Linked DNA regions of Homo sapiens: regions 2 and 3 are each reported to be linked to region 1. Evidence: microRNA targets listed by miRTarBase, many of them from high-throughput screens and not tested one by one. Region 1 holds a microRNA gene; each other region holds the end of a gene's coding sequence.

Region 1 (3,357 bases):
CAGGTCAAATGTCACAGCTGAAATGTTGTCAAGAAAATTGGATTCCTCTGCCAATTTGTAGTCAACTGAACACATTTAGCACTGTGCCGTTTCAGCTGTTTTTAGTTTTATTTTGTGTTGATTATTTTTATCAGTATTATTTAATACAAATGGGATGAGATACTGATAGCCTCTATTTGTTTCATAACCCAGGAGAAAATTGGGAACAATGTTTGGTTGGGGGATAGAAAGAGAAAGATAGAGACAAGGAAAGGTGCAGAAAGAAGCACAGTGCTTGTGAGCTAGACGGGGGTCTGGGGCTGCAGACTCGTCACAGACCCTGCCAAGTGTGAGCTCTTTGTGTATCCGCGAGGTCAAATACCTTCCGAAAAAAAAATGGTGGAGTCAAAATGTCTTTGGGATCAACACAGCCAAAATGGTGATGTAAAGAGACAGGGTCCAGGGTAAGAGCTAAAGCCGACGCGACACCAACGCCATCCTCCCCGGGCCGCGAGCCCCGCCCCCATCATGAATGAAGCTTGTGTTCTCTGAGCGACATCTGTTCTCATCCACCGCAGAGGACCGCAGAGGGCAGACCACCCACGTCTACCCCGTCCATTCTTGCTCACGGGAGGGGTGTAGATGCCCCTGAGCTTGCCACTGGGTCCCGGAAGCCATCCCAAGCAGGATTTGATACTCAAACAAAAGTTGCCTTTGTGTGATTCAACATAAATAAAGCGAATTCACCAAGGGCAACCTCTGCTCAAGGGTCAAACATCAGCACGGGCAAGAACACACCGAGATGCCTCTTCACCAAAGGCGGCATTGCCTGCGGGACCTCCCTGCTGACTCCAGCTGCAGGCTCGCTGGCTTGCTGGCTCGCTCTCTCCCCTCTTGCTCTCTCTCTCTCTCTACCTCCGAGAAGCCCCCCAGGCAGTGGTCAGAACATGGTTGGTCATGGACCAGCTTCTGTAGCCCTGGAGCAGGCAGTGGGGGCGAGGCTATGCACACACACATCACAGGTCAGCCCGAGCTAGAGTCAGCCCCTGGTCACCTACCCTAGAGGGGCTGGAACACCAAGGTCCACCTCCAGAGCCGGTATCTCCTCTGGAAGTCTCTGAAGCAGGATTTCACACAGAGAAGGGGGCTGCCAATGAACCATGTGACCGTGTTCAGTCCAGCCTACAGGGGTTTGAGGGAGGACCCGACCTGAAGGCTGGCGACTCCTCGTCCAGCGCAGCATCCTCAGAGGGTGGGTGGGGCTGCGTCACAGGGACAGCACAGGCTCAGGTGACTGTACTCCATGCACTCCATTCCAGGAGGCCTCAAAGAGAGTTCAACCAAGAAAACAGGTCACGCTGCCTATTCATTCATTCAGCATCACACCTACTGTGCACATCTGGCGACACAGCACCAGGCAAAACAGACAAGGACTCTGCCCTCAGGGAGCTTCCATTCTAGTGGCGAGAGGACAATGAGTGCAGATGACATAACATTCATATAATGACCATCCTCAGAAACAATGCTTATCCTACAGCCACGTGCCAGACGCTGTCTAGACACTTCACAAAGAGCACGTTTCCACTCCGCTGTTAACCCTGCTTTACAGAGGAAGAGACTGAGGCCCAGAGAGCTGATAGGTGAAGGGATTTTCCAAGGGCACACAGCTGGCAACATAAGGTAGTAATAAATGCTATTAACAATTCTCGTCTTGCAGTAGGAATAACCGAGTCGTGCCATGGAAATGTGTCTTTAAACAACATTAATTCTCACTGCTGAGGAAACCCCCTTCACCCCTTGCTTCCCAGAGGTCACCCAGAAGATAAGGTATTTGAGGGCGTAATGTGGATGTCTTCCATTCAGCCAGGAGTTCCTTTCCCTAAAGTGTGCCACACAGCCAAGATGATTTCACACCTAAAAAGGTTGACTAAATGTGGTTTATTCACTGACGAGTCTTCAAGGATGCGACTAGAAGACCACCATGTCAACTAAAACGTCAGCATCATTTCGGGGAATTCCTCCTAATGATGGCCGGGATATGAGCCAAGTGATGTAAGTCACACAGAGAGCACCTGTCATGCGGAGGTGATCCACTTCCTTACCCTGCGCAGGTGCCGGCTGGGCTTTCCCCTCGTGACGTTTCCCAAGAAGAATTGAGTACCGAAAGGAGATTGGCCATGTAATACTCATCATAAATAAAATGAACACACCATGGACAACCTCCATTCGAGTACCTGACTTGGGTGCTCGCTTCCAGCGCGTCCCAGCAGCAGGCCTGAGGACGGACGGGATACTGAGAGTCAGGAAGGTGGCAACACACCACCCACGAAATAAGCTCTGCGGTCCGGGCCGCACTCCATCCCTTACTTGCAATTAGCACCTCTTGCAGGAAGCCATTCAGGGAGGGAAGTGCCACAGCAGAGAGGTCTGCAGAGCACCATCTGTGATACATGAAGAGAGGGCAGCAGGGAAGACAGCAAGACGGTGTCTTGTCAAACATGCAGTGAGCCGATGAGGGAACTGCCGCCTCTTTCGAGGAAACTGCCATGGTAAGCAAGCAGGACGCCTGCAGGTGCACGACCCACCAAGAAGAGTGTGCACACTGTCAGCTTCGCCGTGCGTTCAGGCATTCAGACACCAGTTCTAGTTCCTAAACTCGGCACCACCCGAGGGTGCTTTAAGGCTAGATTTAATGCTTTCAAAAGAGTCCACTATGTAGGATTGGTCAAAAAATAAATCGAATGCATCATGGAAGACCTCTCCACCAGTACCACAGAGTAGCTCTGATAGGAAAAGCTCCACTTCTTCCCCAAAGGTGGCACCATCTCTAGAAACCTCCCCAAGGACGGGGCACACACAGGGTTAGGGCCAGGGCACACTGCTGGGTCGGCTATGGTCAATGGTCCCCTTCCTTACCCTGGAGAGGAGCTGACACCCTGAAGTAAGACTCCGCTCCAGGAAGCCCTCCAAGGCGGGATTTGGTACTGAAAAATAGGTCAACCGTGTATGATTCGTCACAAATAAAGCGAAGGCAACACGGATAACCTATCTTCAAGTACCACACGCTAGCGCAGACCCAATGTCAATGCCTGTTCTCCAAAGTTGGCCTCCTCCAGGAAGTCCCCCTAGGAGACAGTGAACATTGACGGTTAGCAGACGGACTGCAAGAGGGTTGAGAAGAAAGCACACGCCCTGTATTCAACCATTCCATCCCGGACCCTGCAGCCATCCAGACCTCAATGCCTTTGCCAAGGTGGGTGCATGTCTAAAGGAGCACTGCCAGGGAACCTGATGGTGGAGAGGCCAAGTGCACAGAAACTCAGCATTTGGATCAGAGCAGGGCACATTCCCTCATCTCACATTAGCATCGAGGCTGAC
Region 2 (3,000 bases), not on the chromosome of region 1:
ATTGGCAACCAATATTTAAATGTCCTTAATAGTAGTTAAATTTTATTAGTTCTTACAGTATTCATCTTGCCTATTTTATTCATTTAGGTATTCCTCCACCTCGTCCTGGCATGATGCGCCCACCTTTGGTGCCTCCCCTTGGACCTGCCCCCCCTGGGCTGTTCCCACCAGCTCCCTTGCCAAACCCTGGGGTTTTAAGTGCCCCACCCAACTTGATTCAGCGACCCAAGGCGGATGATACAAGTGCAGCCACCATTGAGAAGAAAGCCACAGCAACCATCAGTGCCAAGCCACAGATCACTAATCCCAAGGCAGAGATTACTCGATTTGTGCCCACTGCACTGAGAGTACGTCGGGAGAATAAAGGGGCTACTGCTGCTCCCCAAAGAAAGTCAGAGGATGATTCTGCTGTGCCTCTTGCCAAAGCAGCACCCAAATCTGGTCCTTCTGTTCCTGTCTCAGTACAAACTAAGGATGATGTCTATGAGGCTTTCATGAAAGAGATGGAAGGGCTACTGTGACAGCTTTTGATGCCAGAAAAGGCTTCTGTTCACAACAGTGGCCCATGGAGAAAGAGGCTCTTATTAAACTTAGATGAAAGAGCTGCTTCCATTGTCAGGGTATTTTCTAATTTCAGTTCAAGGAATATCCTAAAATTTAGCCTTGTTCAGAATTTACTGCACATAAAAAAGGGTATTTCATCCAGAATAGATCAGTTATTGAAGCAGTGCTGCTAACATCCATTCCCTTTCATACCACCATTTTCACCCTGTTTCTTCCCCTCCTCCAGTTCTTTGGAAATTTGTGATCGGGGGATCTTAGTTGCTTATTTGTTTTGACTCTTGTGTGCTGTGGGCACTGGAGTAGAGATTTCTGGAGAAAAAAAAACAGTTTATTTCATCTTGCCTTTTGTGTTTGAGTTATTTTTAATATTTTCCTGTAAATATTTTGTAATATTTTACTTGTAATGAAATGGATCACAATGTCATTTCCTAATACAAGGCAGGATATGTGGGAAGAATATGTACAATTATTTGATTAAAATTATTTCCCACTGACCTAAACTTTCAGTGATTTGTGGGAAAAATAAATAAATGTTCTACACCAAGATACTCTGTGTTACTGATAATATGTAAACATAATACCTATTTTATGGACAGAAAAAGTTAAATATTTAAAACTTGGGTCTTTAAGGAACTGCCTTTCTGGTACAGAATGAGAATCTTACTGAAAACATGGTAAAAACTACATTTTAAATTTTAAGGGATAAAAAGGAGTAATTATTTCCCTTTTTTAAGATTGTCATACTGGCTTTAGAGAAACTGAGAGGTGTTAAGAATAGTATGGTTTGGCTTTTATTATTTAAAAGATGTCTTACCTTCAGTGGTTACTTATTCCAGAGCTTCTTGAACTGATACGAGTTGAATGGCAAAAGTCATTTTAAACCATTTTTAAGCTATAAAAGAATCAGAAGAGGTTAGCTTTTTTTCCTTTCTGAATTGGTGGGTTTGGTGTGCTTTTATATTAAAATATGAATGAATAAGAGTGCTTAACATTAATTTGCATTTATACCATTTTCTTTACAAAGTGCTTTAATGTAAACTCATCTACCAATTTAGACTAACTCTTAGTAAGTTTAATGTTAATTTAATGACTAACTCATCTACCAATTAACCCTATAGATAACTTTTCTGGGTATTTTCCCCATTTTACATTAGAGAGTATTGAAACTTAAAAAGGACTCGTGATTTATCCAGTGATCCAAAGTGTGTATTTCATAAACACATACACACAGTGCGTGCATTGTTTAGGCATACGTTACTTTCCACAGTATCTCAAATGCCTTTTACATGAATCCCATACTATCAAAAATTGGTGATAACCTAAAATGTAGTGCAATAATACAATAAGGCATTTATTTTCTTAGAGTTGAGTTGATGGATTTTTAGATTTTTATTCAAGATCTTTTGTTTGTTTGGCTTTGCTTGGAAGATACTGATTTATTCTTTCATATTAAAGCAAATCCTGCCAAAGCACTAAATAGACCGTTTTGGGTTGGTTTTTTAGTGTAATATTAATACGGGTCCACAGGTGAATTGAGTCTGTTCAGATGTAAGGATTGAACCTTATGTTATCAATCCTTGACACCATCCTTGATAACTTACGGATATCAAGGATCAAACCATATGGTATCAATATTGTTAGTTATTCAGCATAAACAGAATTATTTCCCAATACTTGATCTGAAATATTTTTAATGGTCTTACTTGAAACTTATATTCTTTCTGGGAGTGATGTTTTTATCATTTTTCCATGGAGACAGGTTCTAACTCTGTTGCCCAGGCTGCAGTGCAGTGATGTGATCATAGCTCACTGCAGCCTGAAACTCCTGGGTTCAAGTGATCTCTGGCCTCAGCCTCCCAAGTAGTTGGAACTTCAGATACGTGCCACCACAACCAGCTAATTTATTTTTTAGAGATGAGGTCTCGCTATGTTGCCCAGTCTGGTCTCCTAGCCTCAAGTGATCTTCCCATCTCAGCCTTCAGTTGGAGATTTCTGATTTATGTTAATATAAGAAAGCTGTTGATAGTTTATCATAAAGGCATTTCCTTATATTGCTAGTATAATTTTCTGAAAATTAGTGGTGTGACAATACATCAGCTGCATCCACAGGAAAGGGGAATTAATTAGCAGTTCTGATTCTGGGTACACTTGTTATGATCATAATTTACATAATATTTTCATGAAAATGGTCAGCTCACAGCTATGAAATGTAAATGATAGAAATCTTTAATCATGTATATGGATAGACTTGTTACTATTTCCTTATCAAAGTGTCACTTTAGGGACAGCAGTTGCCCCTTTAAATTAAGGATCACCACAATAATACTCTGCCATGTCATGGAATCAGCATGAAGCCCTGGATGCTATCCAAGATTCTGTTTCAGTTCTCATTTTGTATATTCTTGTTTGTGCTCTTGATTAAAATATCTCCTTATA
Region 3 (3,357 bases), not on the chromosome of region 1:
TAAGTCCTGGTGTAGGCCCTTGGGAAAGAACTTGTGAGTGTGTATGAAGTTCCCTTATTTCAGATTCTTGGCTATTCCAAACTGGTATGCTAGCCCACATGTACACTTTAGGAATTTCTTAAAATTTTTGCCAATATTTTACCTGTTTATATAAAGGCCATCTCTTTCTCTTGGGTTCTTCCTAAGGTTAAACAGTCAGTATGTCCCATCTCTCCTTGTAGGGCTTATCACTCTTTGGGATTTGGTTTGTTTGCCTTGTAATTTCAGTTCTTTGATATGTTCAAGAAAAAAAGCTTTAATTTTATAGATGACCCAGCCTTTTCTCCTTGTTAAAATGGGAATGACAGTCTCTTGAGGTTTTCCACATCTTCTTGAGAAGCAGAGCTCTGACTACCTCTACTAAAGTTAGTTGATTTTCTGTTACTCTCTTGTCAGTATCATTTCCATCACTGCACATATTAAAATTAGTAATTTTTTTACTTTGTCTCCTCCATTAGACTTTAATCCTATAAAAACATATACTACATCGCTTCATTGTTGTAATCTATTATACCTAGCACCATAATTGTACATATAGTACTCAAAACTAATACATACGACAGGTATTCATATTTTCAAAAACCAAAAACATTAACCCAACATACAGAAAATACTGTTAAAAAACATCCATGGAAATATTGATGAACAGAGGGAGAGGAGAGGCAAGAGCCCAAATGCAAACTGGGAAATTGTATTCTGAACCATCAGTTAGGTTTTAATTTATAACCTGCCTGGAGACTGTCTACAGTGTTGACTGAGTTCAAAACATAAAGCACAAATAAGAAAAGTATACCCCAAACCACACTTCTTTAATTAAGCTCTAAGAAAAACTCAAATAAATGAAATAGTAAAACTTTGATCAGTAATTCCTTATTGTTTATTCTCCTCTTACAAAAAGACACTTGGGACAAATAAATACAAAATGGCATATATCATATTTAGCAATGGGCAAATACACATTTTCTTGGTATTCTCCACAAGAATAAACTAATAAAATTTTCAGAGGCATACTCTTCTACCCATCTCTTACCCTCTAAAAAAAAAAAAGGCAATTATTTTAATTCCCTGTAATTTTTAACAATGAATTCTCAAAATAAGTAATCTAGGACTATTCAGGGACCAAGACATCTGAATCAACAAGTTAAAAAAAAAATGTCTGTATACACACACACACACACACACACACACACACACACACGATGTTGCCCAGAAGCTCCAATTAATGAAGAGTCTTAAAAGTTTTTCATTTCATATAGTTTGCATGAATAGAGCCTGTTCTATTCTAATCTCAATGGCAAATAATATAAAACAGAAAGCTGAACACAACATGTGTGTGTGTGTGTGTGTGTGTGTCTACTTTTCTGTCCTAAGAGAAAACATTAAATACAGGTATATTTAATATACAGTGAACATACCATGTGTTTTCTTAAAGCCAACAAAATCCTGATTTCCTATAGCTTGGAGGTGATACAGAAGGCAGAAGACAAATATCAAATTTAGCTAATAAAATATACCCTGCCTATTGGCTCCAGCAATACACTATAGAGTTTGAGCAATGACGGATACCCAAGTGTATATGTTTTGTTAAAATTTATCTTCAGGCTAATACCTGAAGAGGTTGGCTAATACTTTAAATCAAATATTCTTACTTAATGATTTATCCATCAAATGGAAATATGTACAACATATTTCAAATCAGAAAAGGGGTGAATTTTCCCCCTGCCCTTCAAAAAAATATTTTTAAAAATCCACTTGAAATAATTTCTTATTTGATGCTTTTTAATCACTTTCCACTTTATGACAACCATTTTTCTAGAAAGGCAGACAAGAATATAAAATGACTAAGGGGTCACTATGAAAACAATCAAATGGATTTGAAATTTACTTCTGTGTATTTTCTGTACTCCCTAAGTCTTGTGCTAATTAATTACATTTTACTTCATCCCCTGTAATGTTACAAATATGCACCTTAAAATAGAAAAACTTGCTTTTATATTTTAAAACCCCCTCCTCCTTACCTATCTTCCCAAATATTTTAAGCAGAAAATTAATCTTGTTGCTTTAAGGATTGATGTAATATTTGCGAAAAACAACCCCTAATAAACCCTTTAGACTTTTTCGAACCAGCACCAAATTTAAGGGGTTTATTCACTCTGAGGTTGCATGGAAGATGGAAATTAAAAATATCAGTATAAGTAGAACCACATTTAAGAAAAAGCACCTAAAGATGGAGGACAGATAATTCTAACATCCTACACACACACAGTGGTAAACCATATTCATGTTTCTATGTATGTAATAAGTTCTCCAAAAATCTAGGTATTTTTGGTTCTGGTACTAAGTCTAAATTTTTTTTTTTTAAATTTCAAAGGCAATTTAAAACTGGGGGGAAATACATTTTTAAAATTTTGGGGTTGAAGTTCACTACACTATGAGACTAATTTCGTATGTGGCAAGTTGCAACTCTCCAAAGGTGTGAATAAACATCAGAAAGCCCAAAGTGAAGAGCCAGTACATCAACATGCATGATCAGGAATCCTATGAAAGTCACAAGGCATTGGGATTTGGTGATTTACATTAACCTCCTCCTGGTAGAAGATAGTGTTTCATGATGAATGCAGACTGTGCTCACTGCTCATGAGACACACACATCACTACTGCTGAGGTCCCACTTTGTGATAATTTAGAAATCATCCAAATTTAACTCCAGAAAATATAAATCTGGAATATGAATGTGAAGACAGACAGTACAAACAGCAGTTGAGTGAAACCTGCCTGTAACGATCTTTATTTTTTTTTCCTTTAAGGCTACAGAAAATCTGTACATAAACAAGGCAATTAATTCTCATAATAAAAATAACCCCTTACAAATAGCCAAGGTGTCCAGTCAGATTCCATAGTGAGTATATGTTGTATCACATTTTATTCCACTTGTGTACTTTTTTGTGAGTCTGCTGGGTTAGGATCAATTCTTTCTGGAAATATTAGCTTCTCACAAACTGCTTCCTTTATTGGTAAATACTGGGATATTTCATTAGGTTCCGTGAAGAGGGAAGGTGGAACATGCTAGGAAATACATAAATCATATTAGCATATTCAGTTACTGTACTGAAATTTTTTACAAATGTTTTGGTTCAAGCATTCATAAAGCATGGAAATTTTAAAATCAGGTGCAATATATGCATATGTGCTCCTAAAAATAATAGGTATTTCTTGATACGGAATCATTCAACTTTGTTACTGAATGATTTCATCAAAGATCACAGGGTTATATAATCTATAATGTTCCCACAAATGTCCTAAGAATTTAATACATCT

Evidence for each region. The annotated mature microRNA hsa-miR-496 reads UGAGUAUUACAUGGCCAAUCUC and lies in region 1 at 2,147-2,168, opposite strand. An mRNA with a match to its seed (bases 2 to 7 or 8) in the 3' UTR can be bound and repressed. Matches are read on the target gene's strand: a 7mer-m8 pairs with bases 2 to 8, a 7mer-A1 pairs with bases 2 to 7 and ends in A, and an 8mer does both.
Region 2: the mRNA of WBP11 is a reported target of hsa-miR-496. Seed matches in the 3' UTR shown: 7mer-m8 at 2,886-2,892.
Region 3: the mRNA of TIPRL is a reported target of hsa-miR-496. Seed matches in the 3' UTR shown: 7mer-A1 at 2,940-2,946.

What each region holds. Positions count from the first base shown.
Region 1 is chr14:101,059,439-101,062,795 of GRCh38, reverse strand. MIR496 (microRNA 496) reads right to left here and starts at 2,223; the gene lies at 2,122-2,223. It overlaps MIR154 (microRNA 154), which reads right to left and starts at 3,041; the gene lies at 2,958-3,041. MIR377 (microRNA 377) reads right to left here and starts at 746; the gene lies at 678-746.
Region 2 is chr12:14,784,586-14,787,585 of GRCh38, reverse strand. WBP11 (WW domain binding protein 11) reads left to right here. Exons shown (of 12, transcript NM_016312.3): 12 at 88-3,000. The coding sequence ends at 521. Among named protein-coding and RNA genes, the nearest start is that of H2AJ, 12 kb to the right of the region's middle.
Region 3 is chr1:168,199,651-168,203,007 of GRCh38, reverse strand. It overlaps TIPRL (TOR signaling pathway regulator), which reads right to left. Exons shown (of 7, transcript NM_152902.5): 7 at 899-3,105. The coding sequence ends at 2,962. Among named protein-coding and RNA genes, the nearest start is that of TIPRL, 22 kb to the right of the region's middle.